Homo sapiens: one gene and its partners. The protein of the gene in region 2 purifies or fractionates together with the protein of the main gene of each other region. This does not show direct contact. Each region holds a gene or a part of one and is shown on either strand. Other genes may lie near its edges. The genes, in order: WASF1, ZNF746, NOC3L, PC, RAI14, HADHA and GCN1.

Evidence for each region.
Region 1: the proteins of ZNF746 (region 2) and WASF1 purify together in Homo sapiens (affinity purification with mass spectrometry, with the first as the bait; one large-scale study listed by BioGRID). This does not show direct contact.
Region 3: the proteins of ZNF746 (region 2) and NOC3L purify together in Homo sapiens (affinity purification with mass spectrometry, with the first as the bait; one large-scale study listed by BioGRID). This does not show direct contact.
Region 4: the proteins of ZNF746 (region 2) and PC purify together in Homo sapiens (affinity purification with mass spectrometry, with the first as the bait; one large-scale study listed by BioGRID). This does not show direct contact.
Region 5: the proteins of ZNF746 (region 2) and RAI14 purify together in Homo sapiens (affinity purification with mass spectrometry, with the first as the bait; one large-scale study listed by BioGRID). This does not show direct contact.
Region 6: the proteins of ZNF746 (region 2) and HADHA purify together in Homo sapiens (affinity purification with mass spectrometry, with the first as the bait; one large-scale study listed by BioGRID). This does not show direct contact.
Region 7: the proteins of ZNF746 (region 2) and GCN1 purify together in Homo sapiens (affinity purification with mass spectrometry, with the first as the bait; one large-scale study listed by BioGRID). This does not show direct contact.

Annotation. Positions count from the first base shown.
Region 1 is NC_000006.12:110,169,671-110,173,170, reverse strand, and holds part of WASF1 (actin-binding protein WASF1), read left to right. Parts: intron 1-3,500.
Region 2 is NC_000007.14:149,491,310-149,494,809, forward strand, and holds part of ZNF746 (zinc finger protein 746), read right to left. Parts: intron 3,195-3,500; coding exon 2,895-3,194; intron 2,807-2,894; coding exon 2,680-2,806; intron 1,664-2,679; coding exon 1,550-1,663; intron 1-1,549.
Region 3 is NC_000010.11:94,338,940-94,342,439, forward strand, and holds part of NOC3L (nucleolar complex protein 3 homolog), read right to left. Parts: intron 2,807-3,500; coding exon 2,734-2,806; intron 1,558-2,733; coding exon 1,494-1,557; exon of another isoform or gene 1,489-1,493; intron 1,409-1,488; coding exon 1,337-1,408; intron 982-1,336; coding exon 800-981; intron 1-799. UniProt on the Homo sapiens protein: May be required for adipogenesis.
Region 4 is NC_000011.10:66,874,884-66,878,383, forward strand, and holds part of PC (pyruvate carboxylase, mitochondrial precursor), read right to left. Parts: exon of another isoform or gene 3,427-3,500; intron 1-3,426. UniProt on the Homo sapiens protein: Pyruvate carboxylase catalyzes a 2-step reaction, involving the ATP-dependent carboxylation of the covalently attached biotin in the first step and the transfer of the carboxyl group to pyruvate in the second.
Region 5 is NC_000005.10:34,809,828-34,813,327, reverse strand, and holds part of RAI14 (ankycorbin), read right to left. Parts: intron 2,317-3,500; coding exon 2,210-2,316; intron 1,562-2,209; coding exon 1,383-1,561; intron 1,149-1,382; coding exon 1,120-1,148; intron 1-1,119. UniProt on the Homo sapiens protein: Plays a role in actin regulation at the ectoplasmic specialization, a type of cell junction specific to testis. Important for establishment of sperm polarity and normal spermatid adhesion.
Region 6 is NC_000002.12:26,238,133-26,241,632, reverse strand, and holds part of HADHA (trifunctional enzyme subunit alpha, mitochondrial precursor), read left to right. Parts: intron 1-2,489; coding exon 2,490-2,531; intron 2,532-2,628; coding exon 2,629-2,699; intron 2,700-3,500. UniProt on the Homo sapiens protein: Mitochondrial trifunctional enzyme catalyzes the last three of the four reactions of the mitochondrial beta-oxidation pathway.
Region 7 is NC_000012.12:120,139,216-120,142,715, forward strand, and holds part of GCN1 (stalled ribosome sensor GCN1), read right to left. Parts: coding exon 3,292-3,500; intron 1,809-3,291; coding exon 1,644-1,808; intron 1-1,643. UniProt on the Homo sapiens protein: Ribosome collision sensor that plays a key role in the RNF14-RNF25 translation quality control pathway, a pathway that takes place when a ribosome has stalled during translation, and which promotes ubiquitination and degradation of translation factors on stalled ribosomes.

The DNA of each region.
Region 1 (3,500 bases), on a different chromosome or scaffold from region 2:
GTTTGATTCCTTTACCAAAAAAGTCAAGTGTGTTATGTTTTCACCTTATGCTACAAAAGTAAGTTTGTTTTCTAGTTGTTTTAATAGGGACATCTTGCTAAATTTGTTAAATTTGCTAAATTTTTATAACATGCATGTGCTACAGGTTATGCCAGAGAATTGTGAAAGGGTTAAACGAAAAGGGAGGAACAGTGAAGCATTTTATATTTTAGTCGAGGATGAAGACTAGCACTCACTTCTTAAAATTATTTTTATAGATTTAGAGGGTACACGTACAGTTTAGTTACATGGATATATTGCATAGTGGCAAAGCCTGGCTTTTTAGTATAGTGTACATTGTACCCATTAAGTAATTTCTCACCCCTCACCCACCATCTATCCTTCCACTCTTCAGAGTCTCCATTATCTATTATTCCACTCTTTATGTCCATGTATACAAATTATTTAGCTCCCACTTATAAATGAGAAAATATGGTATTTGACTTTCTGTTTCTGAGTTAGTTCACTTAGGATAATGGCCTCTGGTTCCATCCATGTTGCTGCAAAAGAGATTATTTCATTCTTTTTAATGGCTGAGTAGTATTTCATTGTTTGCATTTAAATTTTCTTTAATTATCCATTGATGGACACTTAGGTTGATTCCATATCTTTGCTATTTTGAATAGTGGCACTGATTTTTTTTTAAACCAAAATAAAAGCCCTGTGTGGTACATCATAATACACAACTACAAATTTATCAATTTTGTTATTTTCAAGGAATCTTCATTTAGTTTCATTGTTTTTTTCTCTTGATTTCCTGTTTTCAATTTCATAGATTTCTGCCTTAATTATTCCATGGTGTATATGTGCCACATTTGCTTAATCCAGTCTGTCATTGATGGACATTTGGGTTGGTTCCAAGTCTTTGCTATTGTGAATGGTGTCGCAATAAACATACGTGTGCATTTGTCTTTATAGTAGCATGATTTGTAATCCTTTGGGTATATACCCAGTAATGGGATTGCTGAGTCAAATGGTAATTCTAGTTCTAGATCCTTGAGGAATCGCCACACTGTCTTCCACAATGGTTGAACTAATTTACACTCCCACCAACAGTGTAAAAGCGTTCCTATTTCTCCACATTCTCTCCAGCATCTGTTGTTTCCTGACTTTTTAATGATTGTCATTCTAACTGGCGTGAGATGATATCTCATTGTGGTTTTGATTTGCATTTCTTTAGTGACCAGTGGTGATGAGCATTTTTTCATGTGTCTGTTGGCTGCATAGACGTCTTCTTTTGAGAAGTGTCTGTTCATATCCTTTGGCCACTTTTTGATGGAGTTGTTTGTTTTTTTCTTGTAAATTTGTTTGAGTTCTTTGTAGATTCTGAATATTAGCCCTTTGTCAGAAGGGTAGATTGCAAAAATTTTCTCCCATTCTGTAGGTTGCCTGTTCGCTCTGATGGTAGTTTCTTTTGCAGTGCAGAAGCTCTTTAGTTTAATTAGATCCCATTTGTCTTATTTTGGCTTTTGTTGCCATTGCTTTTGGTGTATTAGTCATGAAGTCCTTGCCCATGCCCGTGTCCTGAATGGTATTGCCTAGGTTTTCTTCTAGGGTTTTTATGGTTTTATAGATCCTTCTACTTTTCTAATACAGACTTCATGATATTTTCAACTTAAAATAGGTTTATTGGGATACAACCCCGTTATAAACTGCGGACCGTCTGTATATATACTTGGTGCCATAAATTTCCCTCCAAGCACTGCTTTTGATGTATCCCACACATTTTGATAAATTGAATTTTCATTTTCACTTAATACAAAGTATTAAAAAATTTCTCTTGAGACTTTGAACCATGTGTTATTTAGAAGTGTGATGTTTAATCTCCAAATGTTTTGAGATTTTCCCATCTATCTTTCTGAGATTGCTTTCTGGTTTAATTGCATTGTGGTCTGAGAGCATATACTGTATTAGTTCTGTTCTTTTAAATTTTTTCAGGTGTGTTTTATGGCCCAGAATATAGTCTGTCTCAGTGAATGACTTATGTGAGCTTGAGAATAACATGTATTCTGCTGTTGTTGGTTGAAGTACTGTATAAATATCAGTTAGATCCAGTTGATTGATGGTATTTAGTTCAACTGTATTGTTACTGATTTTTTGCCTGTCAGTTAATTACCGATAGAAGGATGTTGATATCTCTAGCTGTGATCATGAGTTCATGTTTCCCCTTGTAGTTTTATCAGTTTTTGCTTCACATTTTGATGCTCTGTTAGGTGCATATACATTAAGAATCATTAGGTCTTGGAGAATTTGCCCCTTTATCGTAATGCAATGCCTATCTTTATCCCTGTTAATTTCCCTCGCTCAGAAACCTACTTTGTCTCAAATTGATACAGCTACTTCAGATTTGTTTTGACTCGTGTTAGCATGGTATATCTTTCTCCATTTCTTTACTTTTAATCTATTTCTACATTTAAAGTGGGTTTCTTGTATACAATATATAGTTAGGTCTTTTTTTTTTAATCTACTCTGTCTCTTATCTTTTAATTGGCATATTTAGACCATTCACATTTAAAGTGATTATTGACATAATTGTATTAAAATCTACTGTATTTGCAACTTTTTTTATTCATTGCACTTGTTCTTTGTTTCATTAAAAAGAAAAAGTTGGCTGGGCTGGTGGCTCACACCTGTAATCCCAACACTTTAGGAGGCTGAGTCAGGCCAATCACTTGAGCCCAGAAGTTTGACACCAGCCTGGGCAACACAGTGAAACCTTGTCTCTACAAAAAAATACAGAAATTAGCCAGGTGTGGTCACATGCACCTGTAGTCCCAGCTACTTGGGAGGCTGAGGTAGTAGGATCACTTGAGCCTGGGAGGCGGAGTTTGCAGTGAGCCAAGATTGCACCACTATACTCCGGTCTGAGTGATGGAAGGAACCTCTGTTTCACCCCCTCCACCCCCAAAAAATGTCCTCTCTTTTTCTGCTCTGACTTTAATTGAGCACTTTGTATGGTTTCCTTTTCTCTCCTCTCTTAGCATATCAATTATACTTCTTTCTCTTTAAAATGTTTTGTAAGTGGTTGTCCTAGTTTGCCTCTCTTTTTGTATGATTACCGAGGAGAAGTCCAATCTAATTTTTATCCTTGTCCCTCTATAGGTAAAGTGGTTTCTCTCTGTCTTTCAAAATTTTTCTTTGTCTTTGGTTTTCTGCAGTTTGAACATCACATGCCTAGGTGTAGATTTTCTGGTATTTATCGTGGTTGATGATCTCTGAGCTTCATGGATTTGCTGTTTGGTTTCTTAATTTTGGAAACATTTTGAGCACCTGTATATGCTAGGCATTGTACTAAATATCTTACGTATTTGATTTAATCCTCACAACAACCCTGTGAAGAAGTATGATTCTCATTATTTGTGGTGGAAACTAAGTTTTAAGTATAGACCACTACAGAATTTTTTTACAATAGTCACTAAAATTTAACTGCCTTGGGCTTACCCCTGACTTAAGCTTCCTCT
Region 2 (3,500 bases):
CAGCAACCAGCGTATTTCCAGCCCCTCTTTACTCTCATTGAATGATGCTGTGGAAGTGAGGGAAGCCTCCACACATGGTGTAAATACAACGAAACCCACCCACCCAGAACCTCCCACCCAGGCTAGGAAGCTGGGGACGCGCACGGGTTGTAACCCTCTTTTCCAGCCCAATAGTATCTGTTCTCAGCCATCTTTCTGTCCTCTAGTGTTCAGCACTGTCCTTGACGCCTAGAAGATTCTTAAAAATGCATCTGTAGAGCTAAACTGTCAATGTCCCGATGACGACTGGCAAAGCGGCCAGCCCGGAACATGCTTCTGCCCTTAGGAAAGTGCAAATCTGACTGAGATGAGATGACGAACATGGGGGATGCATTTAATTTCACACAAGTGGCGCACAGGAGGGCCTCTGCGGACCACCACCTTTCTCAGTGTCAGACGAAAGGGAAAACCAAGGCAGGTGGGACGGTCAAGGGCGGGTCTTCTGGAGGAATCAGGGGTCGAGCCTTGCAGAGATGTGGTCTCCCTAGTCAAATGACCCAGCAGGTCTTCACTTTAGGAATTTGGTTTTTCTCCTGTGTCCACCTGTCCTTCCCTTAACTTTCAAAGGTGCTGACTGGCTCCAGGGAAATCTGAGACGCTGATATCTGGTAACAAGATTCACCTTAAATAAATGTGTGCTTCTAATAATACCAAACCATAAGGCTGACCAATGTAGACCAAAGTAGCTCTACAACTGCTACTGGTTTAAATTAAGGTTGGTTCTTGGAGGCAAGGCTGACTCTTTGCAAAGCTTTGGATTAATTTTGTTGTCAATATACAGCTGACCTTGAACAACATGGGTTTGAACTATGCAGGCCCACTTATAAATGGATTTTCTTCTGCTTCTGTCACCCCTGAGACAGCTAGACCAACCACTCCTCTTTCTCCTCAGCCTACTCAATCTGAAGAAGACAATGAGGAGGATGACCTTTATGATGCTCCACTTCCACTTAATGAGTAATAAATATATTTTCTCTTCCTTATGATTTTCCTAGTAACATTTTCTTTTCCCTAGCTTATTGTAAGTATCACTATGTAACACACAGAACATACAAAATATGTGTTATTGACTGTTCATAGTATCAATAAGGCTTCTGGTTAATAGGAGACTACTAGCAGTTAACTTTTTAGAGAGTCAAAAGTTATACATAGATTTTTGGCTGCGTGGGACTGGGGGCTGGTGCCCCTGGCCCCTGCGTTAAGGGTCAACTATGCTCCTGCCTTCCCTCTCAGCGTTCTCCTCTCCCTCCCCTCAACCTGTGCCCTGCCTTTGTCTCTTCCTAAAAGATTAGGTTTGCCACCTGTTTCCCTGACAGAAAGTGTTCATTTCTGGAGCATTAGCTGACTAAGTTAGAGATTAAAACTCAACTATAAAAAACTCAAGACATAAAACCTGTAAGTTTCATGTTTCTCCTCGACTCTCTCTGGAAAGATCACACCCTTTCTGGCCTTTCCGTCTCTGTTTCCTGCACAATACCTGATGCCTCCCTGGCCTTCTCCCAGCCCTTACCTGGACTGGGGTCCACAGGAACATCTGGAATCTTGGGGCCAGGGCGGCGCCAGTTGCAGGGCTCCTTCCCTTGTTCAATCTGGGAGAGGACCTCGGGCTTGGAGATGGCGTAGTCTGAGGAAAGACAGAAGGTTAGTTTTTGCCACGTTCCAGTCAAAGCTGGGGACAGTCATCCCGGAAAACCAACAATGGTCTAGAAATGAAATCTCTTGATTGTCACAAAGCAGTAGCTCTCAACCACAGGCAATTTTGCTCCCTGGGGGCATCTGGCAAAGTCTGGAGACAATTCTGGTTGTCATGCCCAGGGCTGGGGGAGAGGTGACTGGCATCTGGAGATGCCCTGAGAGGCCAGGGCTGCTGCTCAACATCCTACAATGCAGAGGATGCCGCCGACACACAGAATCACCTGGTCCCAAATGTCCACAGTGCCGGGGTGAAGAAACTGCCACAGAGCGTGCACGTTAAACAGCAGTGCACTTGTGCTGACGAAACAACCTCACGTCTGCACCTGCTCCTGCCCTCTCTAACAGGTCTCACTGCCCTCGGCTCCGGGGTCACACAGAAACCATTAGGAAGAGAAAACCAGCCCAGGAAGAAACAGAGTCCAGGCCCTTCCTGGGCAGGATTAAACAAGGAGAAGAGCAGTAGCCCCAGGGGCTGAGGGAAGCAAAGTTTTGAGGCATGAAGAAAATGTCTGCTGCAAGCAGCACCGTCTGCCCATGTTCTCCACTGACCTCGAGGCATGTTGCCGTAAGGGCCACGCATGTTTGTAGGAGAAGGCTGAAGGAAAGAGTCTTTCTCAAATGTGAGTCAATTACATACTGGATCTGAGAGCAGATGGGGCCTTCCCCGCTCCAAGTCAGCAAGAACAGAAAGGTCCACATCCCGGGCCTGCGTAGGAGAGAAGCCACCGCCGTTCCCAGACTGGCATTCTGGGAAACTCAACACAGGGAGAAGGGAGCTTTTAACTCCATCACCCAGGGCTCATCCTTCACAAAAGGTAACAACTTGCAAGGTCAACAATGTTTCTGGTGATTTATATAACACTGACATGAAAACAACTATGTGGAGGGAGAATTCTGAGGACTTGCAAAATCCCATTTAACAGAGAAATGAGTGTCAGGCCTTACCCAGGGAGACCAGCGTCTCGTAGTTGCCCCTCATCACGTGCTTGTAGAGCTCCTTCTGCCAGTCCTCCAGCTTGCCCCACTCCTGCTCGGAGAAATACACGGCCACATCATCAAAGGTCACGGGCACCTGGAACCACAAGTGTCACACTCGCTCACCCACACGCTCACGGGTTTGGCCGCTTGGGCTCCCACACCCCAAGGCGTCCCAGGGCTACCTTAGGGGACTCCCCCTTGCTGCCCGGGGGCAGCCGCAGGATCCAGAAGTTCCTGTTGCGCAGCAGGTTCTCCACGTTCTCCAGCCGCCTCTGCAGCAGCCCGTACTCCTGCAGCAGGGTCCCCAGCACGGCCCACTTGCCCTCCAGCTGGTTCCCGAACTCCACGGCTGTCTTCTCGCAATCAGCCAGCTTCTTCTCGGCCATCCCGGTTCGACCTTCTAGGGAAAGCAGGCGAGCAGCCTGCGATTCAATCTTCCTCTCCATGGCCTGAATCGTGGCTGCCATCGTCCACGGAGAAATCTTTCAGAAACAAAAGAGAAACTGGCATCACTCATTCCATCCACTGTCTTCATTGAGCCCCTCTCTCCCTAGGCACGGGGGAGTTGGGCTGGGAGTCCATATGTGTGGACAAGTGGGGCTATCCTATACCACATGCCAGATCTCAGGTTGGCCATCACCTGCTTGGGTATGTTAGGTCTATGTCTGGGTGGGTGCCTTTACTCCAGGCCTCTGCAGCACAATGCAGACCCTTATCACGGTGCTTATCACCCTACACAATAATTTCCTACCCACACCTACACTGTGGGCTCCCTGAACATGGTATTG
Region 3 (3,500 bases), on a different chromosome or scaffold from region 2:
CTTTGAAAATTAATTTTATCTTGCAAAAGAAAAAAATATGCTTCTCACCTTGCAATCACACTTTTAGAAATCTGATAGAAATAATTACATCAGATAAATACATAAAGATATTCACTATAGCATCATTTGTAATAGCAAAAAAAGAAATAACCTATATCAAGAGAAATAGAAAGAAGCAGAAAAACCAGACTGCCTACATTTGAATATCACTTCTACCACTGACTGGCACTGCTACTCAAGCCAAGACACTTAACCTCTCTGGACCTCAGTTTTCCCACATGTACAATAGGAACAAGAATAGTAGCTACCTCAGAGTTATGAAAATTAAATTTTTGTAAGGCATTTATAACTGGAAGGCACATAGTCAGAACTATGGTGTTTGTTAAGCAAAGAATTAAATAAACCTTACATAAAGAGAGTAGTGACATTATAATGTGTTTACCATGATTAAATGCTAAGGTTAAAAAAGTGGTAGAATATATAGCATAATCCTCTTTCCATTAAAATACAAAGTTGAGTTGTTTCTATGTGTATGTGTTTATATATGAACTTTAAAAGGCTGCTGGAAAAATACCCACCAAATGGTAAATGGATACCCACCTAATGACACTGAGAAGTGTCAATAGGTATAAAATGCTTTTTTTCAATTTTATATACCTCTTTTGTCACCTGATTTTGTTACAAGTGTGAATTACTTCTGTAATTGAAATAATATAAAAGGGGGGAAAAGACATGCCTCAAACAAAAAAAATCATTGCATTATAAGAACTTAGCTCTGTTCATTTGTATCACTACTTACATGCATTAATATTCTGGTAGTTGCTAAAATGCCAATACTTGAATTTGGAAGAACATGAAGAGCAAGGGTACAAAGGCGTTTGATGAAGGCAAGAGCTCGCTGCTGAGAAACTTGCTTTCTGCGCTTAGTTAGCATGACATCAAGGCACTGGAGTACAATCTCAACACCTTCATTGGTAGCACCTAAAACAGCAGACATATTCTTCAGAGCTGTTCTCATTACTTTTTCATTACGCAACTGGACTGAACTTCAGATAAACCCAAGATAAACTTTTGTACCTGTCCCAAACCATTTCTCTAATCAATGAGGTAGTGCTATACTGCTAAGGAGATACAGCGGGCTATACTTACTGCATCTCCAGTCAATTCCAGAAGCTCTTTCTCCAAGTCTTACATAAGATTAAATACAGATGCATGGCACTGGAAAGTCACCATTTTATGTACCTGTTCCTATTTCTCATTTGTCTACAATGATGGGTCATAACATATTCTTAAAACATAAATACATATAAAAGAAACATTATCTAAACATACATACCTGCATGTAATTTGAACAGTGTTTTGTAGAGATGTGTGTAGAATTTCAATGGATCAATATTCAGAACATCACCTTTGAAATGACAACAAACACCAATTAGGTATGTTATAGCATTCAAAGGTAAGGCAAACAAAACTTGATTAAGAAAATATCATACCTTGTCCAGAAAGAATATGAAAAGCAGTCTGGACACAGTGAAGACTTTCTTGATAGCTTAGGTCCTTTAAAAAAAAAAGGGGGGGGTGAGGGGGATGGAATATTAAGAATGGTAATTGCCATTTATAGCTTTAAAAAAGAACTTTAAGGCCAGGAGCAAAGACTCAAGCCTGTAATCCCAGCAATTTGGGAGGCTGAGGCAGGCAGATCATTTGAGCCCAGGAGTTCAAGACCAGCTTGGGCAACATGGCAAAAACCCATCTCTCAGGGCCGGGCGCGGTGGCTCACGCCTGCAATCCCAGCACTTCAGGAGGCCGAGGCGGGCAGATCACGAGGTCAGGAGATCAAGACCATCCTGGCTAACACGGTGAAACCCTGTCTCTACTAAAAATACAAAAAATTAACCGGGCATGGTGGTGGGCGCCTGTAGTCCCAGCTACTCGGGAGGCTGAGGCAGGAGAATGGTGTGAACCCGGGAGGCGGAGCTTGCAGTGAGCCGAGATCACGCCACTGCACTCCAGCCTGGGTGACAGAGCAAGACTCCCTCTCAAAAAAAAAAAAAAAAAAAATTTCTACAAAAAAATAGAAAAATTAGCCAGGTATGGTGCCCCACATCTGTAGTCCCAGCTACTCAAAAGGCTAAAGTGGGAGGATCACCTGAGCCCTGGAAGGTCAAGGCTGCAGTGAGCTGTGATTGCACCACTGCACTCCGGCCTGGGCAACTGAGTGAGACCCTATCTCAAAAAAGAAAAAAAAGACCTATAAAGGTTATCTTTAAGATAACCTAGTATGAGGCAGATTTACAGGGTGACTATAGTTTACAATAATCTATTATCTATTTCAAAATAGCTAGGAGGGAAGAATTTGAATGGTTGTCACATAAAGACACATATTTAAGGTGACTGATATCCCAAGTAAAATATTTACAAACTATATTATATGAATATATTTAATTATCACATATACCCTGAAACCATGTACATCTATTATGCATCAATTTAAAAAAAAAAAAAAGAAAACAGGTCAGACAACCCTCCTGCTTAAAACTCTCCAATGGTTGAAAACGTTCTACATCTTGACTGTGGTGGTAATCATATGATCATAGGCCTTTGTCAAAATTCATAAACTGTACATCTAAAAGGGGTTTTACTGTATACAAAATATATCTCAATAAACCTGAAAAATTTTTAAAATAGTAATTACCATTTATATCTTTTAAAAAATAATTTATTATTACTTACACCAGACTCAATGAGAGTATGAAGAACTACTAACAGATCATCAAAAAATTCCACATTTATAAGGTGAGCAAACCTGGAATCAAACAAAACAGTTAATCAGTGAACTAAAAGCAGAAATAAAGCTGGTAGAAATTAAGCTTGACTTTAAAACTGTATTTTTAATATTCTTTATTTCGAAATGTTAGCTATGAAAGACATGGCAATTATTGATACTTTTCATTAATTCAGATTGGCCTCTTCAACAATTCATACACCATTGAACACTAAACTCAGTAGAAATATATAAGGCACTGAACAAACCAAAAATATTTCAAAAATCCTTCTGCACTGAGAAAGAAATTACTAGAAGCAAACAACTTCCTGAGGAAAGTTTAGGAGGTATCCGGCAGGATCGGCTTCTAAGAAAACAGGTGGTGGGAAGAGAGACAAGGAAAGATTCTGCTACTTACAAGAATATGGACCTTATGACAGCTTTAAGGATAAAATGGAAAGAATACTGGACCCCAGTATCTAGTTCAGGCTCTGCTCTTAATTACCTGCGTGATCCTAGGTAACTCACTTCACTGTCCTGGGCCTCTATTTGTAGAAATAACTGAGACCACCCAATAGGGTTAAAGAAGAATCATATGAGCTGCTAAATTTGAGAGTTACTCCATATACTATAGTAGACACTGAAGTAGGTTAAAGTCAGGACATCTCTTCAATATTAGCAAGAAGTCTTTGATCTATGTAAATCTTAGAAGAATAAAAGACCTTATGAGTGACAT
Region 4 (3,500 bases), on a different chromosome or scaffold from region 2:
GAGGAGGGGACACAGAAGCTGGGACCTGGATGGGGAGAAGTCGGCCACGCACAGATCCGCAGAGAAAGCTCCAGGAAGAAGGGATAGCAATTGTGAAGTTCTCAGGAAGAACAGGCTTGGTGCTGTCCTGAGAGAGGGAAGTGTGAGCCCACGGCCTGAGGTGGGGCTGCAGCCACAGACAGGGCCCAGTGGTTGAGGCCTCCCTTCAGCCATGGACAGGACAGGAGGGACATGATCGATGCACAGTGGAAAGGATCTCTCTGGACTGGCGAGCAGCAGGGGCTGACAGACGACGCATGTCTGGGGCAATTCAGAGGCTGAGCTGAGAGACGCGGAGCCTCTGACAGGGGGAAGCTATGGGGGTCGGGGTGGGGCTTAGGAAACATCTGGGCTATGACAGACAAGATTCGTCGAGAGACCCCCCATAGAAAGCAAGGTAGAGGAAGAAATCCTGTATGGGTGGGTGGAGATGACTTTTCCTGCTATAAGAAGGGCAAGACAGAAAAGGCAGGGCTGGGAGTGAGGCAAGCTCACAGAGGGGGAAGAGCAGGGACAAGAACCTGGGCAGCATCACAGGGGCGGTGGTGTCTGAAGCCAGGGAGAGAACAGCCTGGGAGAAGTGGGTCAGGCCTGCGTCTTCAGGCCCACTGGAGTTGAGTCTGGCCGAGGAGGAAGAGCCAAGAAGGAGCCCAGGGGGGATGCCTGGAGGAGGGAGGGACGCACGGGTCGCTGGGCAGAAGCGAGCGGCTCTCAGGAGGATGGGGCGCGAGTTGGGCAGAGCATGACTCCCAGAGGCAGGGTAAGATGGGGGCTGGGAAGGGGCCACTGCGGTGACCAGGAGGCACCCAGGTCACACCCGGCTATGGTGAACGTGGGTAGAGTAACCTTGCTGGACTCTGGGCTCCTCCTCTTTCTAAAATATACCTTGTCCTTATTCATTGCACAGTGGAGAAACCTGGCGGACACCACGCTGACCGAGAGATGAAGGTTAATATCACTAGCACCGAAGGGATACCACACACCTCCTGATGGGGTTCCCGCTGCCGTGCACGGCCTGAATTTAATCAGGAGAAAGCAAGGGGCAAACTCAAATTCAGGGAAATTCCACAGAATAACTGGCTTGGACTCTTCAAACATGTCAAAGGTCGTGAGAGACAAAGACGCAAGAACGGTTTCAGATGAAAGGAGACCAAAGCAACAATGGTGAGAGCCACACACGATCCTGGATTGGATCCGGGTTTCTATTGCTAAGAGGACATCAGGGGACAACGATACAATTTAAATAAGGTCTGCAGGTTTGAAAGAGGATTGCGTTGATATCAATTTCCTGATCTTGATCAGTGGACTGTGGTTATGTTAGAGAACAGCCTCATTCTTAGGGAAAAACACTGAGGAACTCAAGGGTCCACGAGCACCACATCTGCAATTTACACCCACTCACATGGTTCAGGGAAAAACGGGAACAATGAAGCAAATGCTAGTATTGGGGGAACTGGGGTCAGGGGTACGAGAATTCTTTGTCTTACTCTTGCAACTTTACTGAAAGTCTGAAATCATTTCAAATTGACAAGTGAAAAGAACCATACCCACCGCTAATGCCGCTGGAGGAGATAACCTTAGGGAGTGCATGCCCCAGCACCTGCTGCTCAAGAGGTGCCGGGAGCACCAGCGAGGAGCTCAGGTGTGGAGACACCCTGCTCAGAGCAGGATGAACGTCAGACGTTATCACCCTGCTATCTCCCACATGCAGATCTACAATCCTCTAAGCCCTGCTCCAGGCGAGTTATCGGATGCTGCCCACTAGGAGGACAGGTCTTTCCCAGCTGGGAGCAGGCGGCACTGGCATCAGAGAGCAGGTGTGGGGTGTAAATCTCACCCTCCTCCTGGGCACCAAATGTCTACTCTGCTGAGCGCTGGGAAAGGCCATGTCAAAAGAGCTCAAGTTACCACATAGGGCAAAGTCAGGAAGAGGCGAGGGGAGCCTTCGGGACAAGCACAGCAACAAGACAGCAAACACAAGTGGCTCTTGAACCCACGAGAAAGCAAGAGATTCAAAATACAACCATGAGGTGCCACTCCTGCCTGGGAGCTTTGTAAATGCAGTGCTGAGCGCCAGGAAGGCCTTCAGGAGGCGGCCCGCAGGCACTGCTGAGCATCACGGCAGCTTCTCCGGGAAGCTGTTTGCAAAACTTATCAAGAGCCTTTAAGGTATTTATGCCCGGCCAGGCGCGGTGGCTCACGCCTGTAATCCCAGCACTTTGGGACGCTGAGACAGGCGGATCATTTGAGGTCACGAATTCAAAACCACCCTGGCCAACATGGTGAATCCCCGTCTCTACTAAAAGTACAAAAATTAGCCCAGCATGATAGTGGGCGCCTATAGTCCCAGCTACTCGGGAGGCTGAGGCAGGAGAGTTGCTTGAGCCTGTGAGGCGGAAGTTGCAGTGAGCCGAGATCGCGCCATTGCATTCCAGCCTGGGTGATAGAGCGAGACTCCATCTCAAAAACAAAACAAAACAAAAAAAGCCGGGCACAGTGGCTGACGCCTGTAATCCCAACACTTTGGGAGGCCAGGGCGGGTGCATCACGAGGTCAGGAGATGGAGACCATCCTGGCTAACACGGTGAAACCCCATCTCTACTAAAAAATACAAAAAAATTAGCTAGGCATGGTGGCGGGTTATGCCCCTGAGCCCAGTCATTACTATTCCAGAAATCCAACCCCAGGAAATATTCCAAAATGGGAACCAAGATGTACGCAGAAAGATGTTCAAAGCAGCATTATTTACAACAGAAAATCATGAGAAGCAATTTAAAGATTCCACACCCTGGCTCCCACAGACATTATGTAACCATTAACAATAATGTGTTTGCACAGGTTTTGATGACATGGGAAATGCTTGTGATGTAATGTGAAGCCAAGAAAATTTAATGGTAAACAACATGATCTCATGAAGTTTTTTTAAAGGAATGGCAACAACTGTAGGACTGCTTGCATGCCACCCTCCTCACTCCCACGTGCTATGGAATTGCTGTAGAGTTGTGTTTTCCTCCTTCTTTATGCTTTTCTATATTTCCATATGGAAAATTTCCATATTTTCTCCATTGGGGATGCGTTATTTATAATTAGAAAAAAAAGAAGAAATATACAGAAGGGACAGGAAGAGCTCCGCAGGAAAAGGCGAAGGGAGCTCCTGCTACACCGACTCCTTGGGTGGGAGGACTTGGCTATGTGTCTCCCAGGAGCCTAGCACCCTCCCCCTCCTCACCTGCTGGCCTGCCTATAGGTGAGCAGCCTCACAGCTGGCAGCAGCCCACTGGCACCGAGATTCTCAAACCTCCAGGGCAGTTTCAAGCTTTTTCCAGGGAGCCCCAGTCCTTTCCTCCCACCTGGGTGGGTTTACCCTGCGACCACAGGGGCACTTACCCGTGGTTTGTGGGTAAACAGGTCATTTTTGTTGCTCTCCTCCCCTGTCCACACCACACTCACTCCCCACTGCC
Region 5 (3,500 bases), on a different chromosome or scaffold from region 2:
GAGAACTGGGAAAGTAGAGGTTGAGGTCTACTACAACTTAGAATCCAGAATACAATCACAGCCAGCTTTCTGTATTAATGAAAAGCAATGGTATTTCCCACACGTCTGCATTACTTCCATTCCTTTTTTTAAAGACTATAAATATGAGGGAAAGGGATAACTTCATTTTTGAAGGTTACTGGTAAGTAATACAGTTAGCACATAAATTTAGTATTGAGTATTTGCTGTTTATGATTTCTTCAAGAACGTAGATGTGTAAATAAATAAACAACCAAACATATACTGTTCATCAAAAAAACAGATAGTGACAATATATTTTTAGAAAAAACTACACAATAACAGGGCAAACTCAATTTCTACTTTGTGTAACACCACATGACGTTCTAGAAAAACCCTAATTAAAAGAAAAGGCTAAATTCTCTTATTTTCATTAAATAGCTAACATTTTCTGGCTGAAGCTCTGTAGCTCATGTGATATTACAAGTATTTAAAACAGTGTTATTCAGTCACAGAGTTTAAGCCACATCAAACATTTTCACACCAATAGGAAGTATGAGTTAGTACATTTCAGAAAAAGATGAACATATAAGTAGCAAGTTTAAAGTTACATGCTTTTGAAATAAAGCAAATTATTAAGGAAAGCTTTACCACCTTTTTTTTTTGAGACGGAGTTTCACTCTTGTTGCCCAGGATGGAGTGCAATCGTGCAATCTCAGCTCACCGCAACCTCTGCCTCCTGGGTTCAAGTGATTCTCCTGCCTCAGCCTCCCGAGCAGCTGGGATTACAGGCACGCACCACCATGCCCGGCTAATATTGTAATATTAGTAGAGGCGGGGTTTCTCCATGTTGGTCAGGGTGGTCTTGAACTCCCGACCTCAGGTGATCCACCAGCCTCGGCCTCCCAAAGTGCTGGGATTACAGGCGTGAGCCACCGGCCCGGCCTGGCAACCTTTAACACCTTATAACAATGACTTATTTATTCAAAGATATTTCAGTCCCTAAGTATTTTCAATATAGTCTTTATTACTTTACTAGTGGACCAGAGTGGTTAAATCTGAACATTTTTAAATTCCCACAAGCATAAATGAAACATAGAAGCCTCCCCCAAAGATAAATACCTGCTTTGGTTTTGTTGGGGTCTTTAAATCTATAGAGGAAAAAGTGAAAAAAAGAACTATAAGAAGCATAATGATTCATATTCACTTTGGGTGGGGGGATACACACACATACACCATATACAATATTTTTTAACACTCCTTTTTTTTTCAAGAATATGTTTAAAAGAATAATAAAATATATCATATTGCACACATTCCTTTATCCTTTGGGGAAAATGGAGTGGATAAACTTAAAACAACATTGGCTATTTTCTTTTACATACCAGCATCCTGAGAGATTTTTGATAATAGAAGGCTTTGAATTCCTGCATTTTCTGAGAGTTTGGAATAATGTAAGGCATTGTATCCAAGAGAATCTACAAGGTTTAGGTCTGCACCCTTTTTAATTAAGGCTTCCACAGCGTTAGAGCTGCCAATCTCACAGGCCAGCATGAGAGCAGTTCTAAAGGAAAAAAGAGACACAAAATTAGTACTAAGAGAATGTAAAAAGTCTTTCTTGGGAAATCAGTTGTCTTAAAAAAAGAGAAAAGAAGATTAAGTGCAGTTAAACCTTTATTACACTTAATCTTCAGGGAATTCGAAGTGGAATGCAATCAAGATGAAATTAGGTGGTTTTTTTTTTTTTTAAACTTCAGATTAAATCAAAACATTAAACCACATTTTGTCAAACAACACAATCTTCTATACTATTTGGCATAATATGATGGGATTTAATATGACTGGCATGAATCTTATCCTTGTTTTACCTCAAGCATTTTAAATAACATATATATTTCTAAGACCATTTCTCCAAAACAACCAATAGGTTTGTTTTATTTTGCATAGAAAGTCACAGGAAATTGTTTATTCACATTAGCATTTAATAGTCTCCTCACAGACTTAGCCAGCAATGATGTCCACAGATGTCTGGGGAAAATTGCTTTAAAGTCAACATAGATTCTTGATTATCAGAAACAGTAGAACTTTAAAAAGGTAAGAAGTTAAAAATCCCTTATAACAAATGATCCAAAATATAGCTGTGATATTTTGAAATACTCTCAGAATGTGGGTATCACTGAAGTCACATGATTTCTGCCTAATTCTGGAGTACCTTCCACTTTTGTTCCTGGAATTGACATCTGCTCCATGATCCAGGAGAAAGTGACAGATCTCACTGTGACCATTTTGTACAGCAAGAAGCAGCGGTATATTCCCATCCTAGGAGACAAATTCAGATTTAGATTTTACCTCAGGCACAAAATGCCAGAATTGCAAAAGTCAGCCCCTGTTTTTTGCACATTTTTCTCCTGACTTGGACTGCTGACTGCTGATCTAGTATCTGGTCCAACCTGATATTCTGTACCCCTATAGAGTCACGATTGTATGTTGGCACAACTCTTGTTATGGAATTTTACTGAATGCTAGCTTTTACATAGGAGCTCCAGCTTCTTGCGGCTGCTTATGCCCTTGGCTATCACTGTTTGGGTGACTGTGAGAGAGGACAGAACACAAAGTGTGTAAAGGCTCAAGGCAAGTGTACCGGGTATACTGAGGGACGGTGCTGGAGAAAGGAAGGGCGTGTCTCCGCACGACACCAGAAGATCCCACTGCCCTGTAGGCAGCTTATTCCCAGTGCACTAATCATTATATATCCTGCCATTCCACTTTTACCGAAAGTGTACCCTTTAGTAATCTTGCTATGTATCAAAATATAACATAAATTAAGAGCCTATGTCTGTTACTAACACATGACTAGATAAAGAAATGGATAGAAAGAATAATTATGTCATGACAATTGCAACCCCTTTGGGAAAAAGGAAATCTAGGTCTCCAACTCATATACAAACTATGTCAGGTGGATTAAGCATTTAAACATTACAATATAAAACAAATGATGAAAAATACTAGAAGAATATACATAAGTATTTTTTGTAATCTTAGGTCTGACACAAACCATAAAGAGAAGTTGTTATTTTGTTTTTTTTCTGGAATATACCCTATAAATCCATCGACAGTGAGTTTTAAGGTAGAAGCATTCAATAGGCAAAGGGAAAAGATGTTACAATATATCCAACTATTTAAAAATACAAGTGCTACTTAAAGATTGAGTATTGTCATAAAGAATTTCAGATAGATTTCTGGGCACTATCTCTGTGAAGTTATACTACTTTCTGCTTAGGAAGTACTGAACTTCAAGGAATATGAATTTATTTACAGATTCTATCTAGTCACTTCACAGCATCTCCATCAAATATAAGTGTATGCATGTCAGTTCTCATGCTGCAACATGAAATATAACCCCATGACAGAACCATGTGATAGGTATATAAATTTATTCTCAAAGTAGCCTGGTGAAGTTAAAATAGCCTAGTAATGGTCTTCAAAGTTGGGAGATTCTACGT
Region 6 (3,500 bases), on a different chromosome or scaffold from region 2:
GTCACCCAGCCTGGAGTGCAATGGTGCGCTCTTGGCTCACTGCAACCTCCGCCTCCCGGGTTCAAGTGATTCTCCTGTCTCAGCCTCCAGAGTAGCTGGGATTACAGGCTCCTGCCACCACGCCCAGCTAACTTTTTTTTTGTTTTTTTTTTTTTGTTGTTGTTGTTGTATTTTTAGTAGAGACGGGGTTTCGCCATGTCAGCCAGGCTGGTCTCTAACTCCCGACCTCAGGTGATCCAGCCACCTCAGCCTCCCAAAGTGCTGGGATTACAGGCGTGAGCCACCGCGCCCGGCCATAGATTGTGTATTTTTAAATTTGATTCTCACTTCCTTAATCTCGTCGCTTCTCCCAGTGTTGAATCTTGAGAAAAGCTGTTGATTATTACAACCAAAGTAATGTTTTCAAATTTGAAATTTATGTTAGCATAATCCAGCTCTCTTCGCTGACTGTAGTCTTATGAGGTTTTGTAGTTATTCTTGGGTTACATTACAAAGATGATTAAAAAGTGGGGCAAAGGTTTCTCTCTACTTTGCTGGCACAGTAGATGTAGGCTAAAGTTCACTCAGCTGCCATAGGGTAAGCTCTGCAGTTAGGTAGTGAGTAAGGCTAGACTCCAAAAGCAAAGCTACCTTGCAGTGTGACTTGATTTGGTTGACTCTGGTTTGGAATTATTTTCGAAGTATGTTCATGTATATACTGGTTTTCTATTTGTTTCTATTTGTCTTGATCTTGGAGAGGTTTTGTGTATGAGTGTGTGGGCAGCATAGGTAGGTTAGTGGACAGGAGTTAAAATGGTTTAAACTGTTGGCTAATGACCACTAACCTGTTATCTCAAATATTTGATCTTTAAAACTGCAACCCAGTGGGGCATAGTGGCACATGCCTGTAATCCTAGCTACTCCGGAAGATTACTTGAGCCCAGGAGTTCAAGACCAGCCTGGGCAACATAGGGAGACCTCGTCTCAAAGAAAAAAAATGTTTTTGAAATATTGCAACCCATGCTCACTCTATTTCCTTTTTTTGCTTAGGTGCTTATTTTCTAACATATTTGTGTTTCTTGGTTTTTCCCTCTCAACCTGCATTCCCAATCAGTTCATTCCCACTCTAATCCACTTTACCCTGTTTTGCTAGAATTACCTATCCCCTTCTTCCCTTCCCACTGGAATTTCTACTTTGCAGGAAAACTTTTTCTATGCCAGGCCTATTTTCACTTTTCATTTATCTTCACTGAGTAGGAACTGATTCTTCCCAGATATCATATCCCCTGCTGACCTGGAATGTAAGCTCCACCAAGACAGGGATTTTTGTCTTTTTTGTTCACCCTGAATGTCCTGCTGTACTCCAAGTGCCTAGAACAGTGAATGGCACATGGAGGTCACAATATATGTTTTTGTTGAATGAATAACAGATTATGTTGGAAAAGATTACAATGTGGTTGGTGAAACACCTGCTACAGATGCAGCAGTTAGAGGACAGAACATTAAATAATAAAATAAAAATGCAGGCAAGGAAAGGAAGGATCACTGTAGACAGAATCCGAAGATGAGGTTTTGTGGAAAAGAGTGGAGTCATGATGCAAATATAAAGAAGGAAGAGTGGTAAATACAGATGACACAGATTTCAAATGATGGAAAAGCAAAGCAGGAAACATACTATTAGTCAAGTAGAGGCACTGGGGATTGAGGAGATGGCTGGCTTCTCCCATCTTAAAACACTGAAGTTCACTTGTAAGAGACTTGTTCACAGTCACACAGCTAGTAAATAAACCTGATGGTTGAACACAAGTCCTTTGCCTTTGCACTAAGTCGGCTGGCTTGGATTGCTTAAAGAAGAAATGCAGGCAGAACCTGAAATCACCCCATTCTGCTTCTGGTGCTAACCACAGTTTTCTTTCTTTTTTTTTTTTTAATGTGTCACCTTGCCTTTCCAACCAGTATAAAGCTGCTATTTTTTGTGCCTTCTCTTCCCTTTCCATAAGGAACTGGGGGATAAAGAGAAAATACGGAGGCAGCAAGAGCCTTGGCAACCTACTGATGATCCTCCCCTATTCCACTCCACCTTCACTGGGTTCTCCAGTCAGTAGTTCCCATGTGCCTCTTACATTGCTATCTCTTTGGTTCTCTTTGCTTCCCTCTTCCCTTTTGTGATTACACTGGGCCCACCTGGATAATCCATGATAAACTTTCTTTATTAAGGCCAACTGATTAGCAACTTTAATCCCCCCTTTGCCGTGTAACCTAACATATTCACAGGTTCTGGGGATGTATATCCCTTTGTGGGGGCCAGTCTTCCTCTTTTAGTATCCAAATAATCATCTGACCTAACAACTGAAATGGAAAAAATATGGCAGTAGTCATATGGCCTAGAATACATTGTACAGATTTGGGGTTTTTGTTGTTGTTATTATTGTAAATTACAGCTTTGTTATATATAAAAGGTACTACAGAAATTGTTTCGCAAATTAATTTTGAAATGTCTTTTCTTACAGGTTATATATGCCGCAATTTTACAGGGTCTTCTGCTTTGCTGAGTAAGTTTAATTTCTTTTTAATGTGTATGCTTACATTGCTTTTTGGATTTATGTTGCAATAAATATGTTTACAAATAAATCTTTCTTTTCTTTTTAGCCAGAACCCATATTAACTATGGAGTCAAAGGGGATGTGGCAGTTGTTCGAATTAACTCTCCCAATTCAAAGGTATCTCATTTAATTTGCAGTTTTTTTCTGCTAACCGCATTATGAATCTAGTCCTGAATGGGAAAGATGTATCCCATATTTCCCCAAATCTACCAATCTGGCAGTAATCTTACATGAATTTACAGTTTTGACAGTTATGTTAAACTTTGACAGATTGCCAAGGGAGCCAGTTTTCTAAAGCAGAGGTTCTTGCGTAAGAATTCCTCTTGTTGACCTTAGGTGCCACCAGCCTCCTGGTTATAGTGTAGAATGAGGAGGTGACTTATTAGAGAAGAACCAGAGTACAAGCTTTGTTTATAAGACTCAAAATTTGCCTACCCATCTTAAATATGAGGTTGTTAATCCATTTTCTTCATTACTTGCCTGACATAAGTCACTATTCATAGTAAGTTGGCTGAGTGAAATGTGGATACTTGGCTCTTAAGCTTCCTGAGGGATCTGAATGACTCAATGCAATTCACATATTGGAAATCAAGTTCTGTTCGAATTGAAACTTCTTTTGTTTTTGGCAGCTTCAATAAAGTGTGTAACAGTAATCCATTCTTTTGCCAAGAAGAGCTTTATTGTGAGAGTCCATGCTTTTCCCCCATCTAAATTTGGTGTATTCTTACTTTAAAAATCTTGTAGCCAGGCTGGGCACTGTGGCTCACACCTATAATCCCAACACTGGATGGCCGAGGCAGGAGGATCACTTCAGCCCAGGAGTTTGAGACCACCCTGGGCAACATAGCAAGACCTTGTCTCTATAAAAAATAAAAAATAGTTGGGTATGGTGATGTTCACCTGTAGTGCTAGCTACTC
Region 7 (3,500 bases), on a different chromosome or scaffold from region 2:
ACAAGAATCGCTTGAACCCAGGAAGCAGAGGCTGTAGCCAAAAGAGATGGTGCCCCTGTACTCCTGCCTGGGCAGCAGAGTGAGATTGTCTTAAACTAAAAATTTTAAAAAAATTAAAAAGTAGAGAGGGGCCGCGCACAGTGGCTCACGCCTGTAATCCCAACACTTTGGGAGGTGGAGGCAAGAGAATCACTTGAGGCCAGGAGTTTGAGACCAGCCTGGGCAACATAGTGAGACCTCACCTCTACTAAAAATGCAAAAATTAGCTACGTGTGGTGGTGCACACCTATAGTCCCCAGCTACTCAGGAGGCCATAGCGAGAGGATCACTTGAGCCCAGAAGGTCAAGGTTACAATGAGCTATGATCGCACCACTGCACTCCAGCCTGGGTGACAGAGTAAGACCCCGTCTCAATAAAAAAAAAAAGCAGAGAGGATGTGATGCACCCCCATGTATCCTTCACTGAGACTTAATAATCAACAGCTTGAATCTTTTAGGTGAATTCTCAATATACCTCCCATCTTCTCTAAGAACTGCAAACTCCTTCCCATGGCATCTGGCCCCCTCTCTCCCTGGACTCTTTCTTTTGCTTATTCTCTTGGAAAACTCCAAGTCCTTCTTCAAGTCTCAATCCAGACTTTGTGCTCTATGAAGTCTTTGGGTCTACAATGGAGCCAATAATGGCTCTGCTCCCTCAGTAACGATCCCAGCACAGCAAAGCCCACTCTGCATTCTAATGACTGGTTGGCATGTGGGCCTTGCCATTGGACTGTGGGGACTTTGCAGACAAGAACTCAGCCTCTGTGGAACTCTACCTCTCCAATGAATCACAACTCTTTCTGATGACAGAATTTCTTTTGATTCCTTGCCAAATGTAAATTTTAAAAACCAAACGTAAGACAAACATCAATATAGGAGAAGAGGGATCTGGTATCCTAGGAATTCAGACAAGGATGCCCAAGCCAAGCAACTGGCCACTTGCTTACATTTCTAGCGGGCCATCCACTTAATTGCTTTGGCGTTTTCATCCAAACACGAAGGCAGTGCCTAAAAGCACTCCTAACCTACTCCCCAGGGTGGTCTCCAGGATCATTTAACTCAGGAACCAAGTAAGAGTAATGGACTTCACACCCCTTGAACGTTGCTGCTATGGAAACAGTATTGTTGCCAGACGCAATATGCTTCCTCCCACCTGGCACCACAACTCTTACCTGCTCCCCTCCTGCTAAGGGTGAGTGCACACCCCCTCCCGCACCCTCCTGCCCTACCCACTCACACAGCTGTCCATCCCCTTTCCCAGAAGGAGGTGCACACATTTTAACTGGACTTATATAGCATCACAAAAGAGACTGATCCTGAGCAACCTCCACAGTTGTAAGAGAGCGATCATCTCCAGTTTCCAAAGGCCACTCAAGGAGGCATCCAAATCACTTAGCTCTTAGCCTGCAAAACTGACAGGAAAGCTGAGAAGACGGAGCCTCAAGTCCATGTGGCCCAGCCAGCACCTCCCCAGAGTGAGACTGGCTCATCCCTGAGGGCAGCACAAACCCCCTAGAGGTGAACCTCCTTCAGTAGCCCTCCCCCGCCCTCTGAGTCAGGTCGTCTGCAGTGCACAGCTGGCGGGATCCTTGGAAGATACTCACGGCATCCCGGCTGGTGGACTTCATGATCTCACTTAGGCCAATGCACACACCCTGCCTCTCATCGCTCTTCTGAGACCTCAGGCCTTCCTCAAGGATGGGGATGATCTCGGGGAGGATTTTCTCCCCTAACTTCCGCACAAGATCTCCCAATGTTCTCGCTGCAATCTGTCAACAGAGACCAATCCAGGAAGTAAAGTCCCTGCAAAGCCCAGGGCACCCAGAGGAGGACTCCAGAATGAGGGCCCTGAAACCTCCCAGGCTTTATCTGAATCACTGACTTAACTTCCCCAAATGCTCTTACCCCTAAAGAGCCCCCAAATACTCTCTGTAGTGCTTGCAAAACACTACCAAAAAATTATCTGTTTCACACACACCTACACAACCTAACATTAAGAGCCAGCAGCACCTTACACATGTACAAAAAATTCATCATCTGCTGCACAGTCAAGGGCCAATTTCCCTGGATGACTGAAGCCTTAACACTGTGCTATGGCTGAGCAGGAGCCGAATCTGGAACAAAGCTTTAAGGAAAAAAAAACATCTACTTTCTGAGACCTCATGCAAACCCTTCTTTAGAGCCAAATACACAATTTGCTTGCCAAGGATGGGGGGTTGGAAGTAGACCAAAGGAGATGGGCAGAAATGATCACCAGCCCATCTGGGCACCTCCTCCAGGCCCACTGATCTGTCTGCCCCTGCCAGCGCGCCAGCCTGATCTCATGCCGCACTGCTCCTCCCTGCCTCCTCACTCCAGCCACACTGGCCTTGCTCAGCCCCTACTGGTGCTATGTTCCTGCCCACCACGGGACCTCTGCATATCCTGTCTTTGTATCTGAAACATTATTTATTCCCTCTGTCTGGAATGGTCTTTCGCCACCTCCTCACCTGGTTAGTGCTTACTTATCTTTCATCTTCCAGCATCATTTCTTCTGAGAAGTGTTCACTAACACAGGCCCATCCCTCCCCAGCAGGTCAAATGCAGCTATTATAAGCATTTGCAGTGCCATGCAGCACTGGCCACAGTCGCATTTTACATCTCTTTGTGTGGTTATTTGATTAATATCCATCTCCTCGACTAGACTACCTCTCATGAGGATAAGGAATGAAGCTGCCTTTCTTCTCCATTGTGTCCCCAGGTGCTAGGCCCCTGCTTAGTGCACAGGAGATGCTAATAAATATTTGCAGAGGCCAGGCGTGGTGGCTCAAGCCTGTAATCCCAGCACTTTGGGAGGCCGAGACGGGCGCATCACGAGGTCAGGAGATCGAGACCGTCCTGGCTAACGTGCTGAAACCCCGTCTCTACTAAAAATATAAAAAAATGGCCAGGTGTGGTGGTGGATGCCTGTAGTCCCAGCTACTCGGGAGGCTGAGGCAGGAGAATGGCATGAACCTAGGAGGCGGAGCTTGCAGTGAGCTGAGATCACGCCACTGCACTTCAGCCTGGGCGACAGAGCAAGACTCCACCTCAAAAAAATAAATAAAATAAAATTAATCAAAAAATATTTGCAGAATGACTAAGTAAAGAACACAATGTCCCTCTGTTAGGCAGGGTGGATGGGTACTTTCCCAGGCTCTGCAGACCCAGCCTTCTAGGCTCTGAAAGGAGGCACTGGGGCTGCTGGTCCAAAACAAGGCCCAGGAAACTCACCGTTCTCTTATCTGCACACGTGCTGGCCAGGAAACCCAGCAGGAGCCCAAAGAGAGTGGGTAGGATCTCACGCAAGGTGCGGGGGGTATTGGAGACAACAATCTTCCAGACATGCAGGGACGCCTGCCGCACCACCAGCTGGGTGTCTGAGCGGCCCATGTACAGCCCTGCCAACACCCGGTTCCGCCGCTCTACCCCCAGGGCAGTGA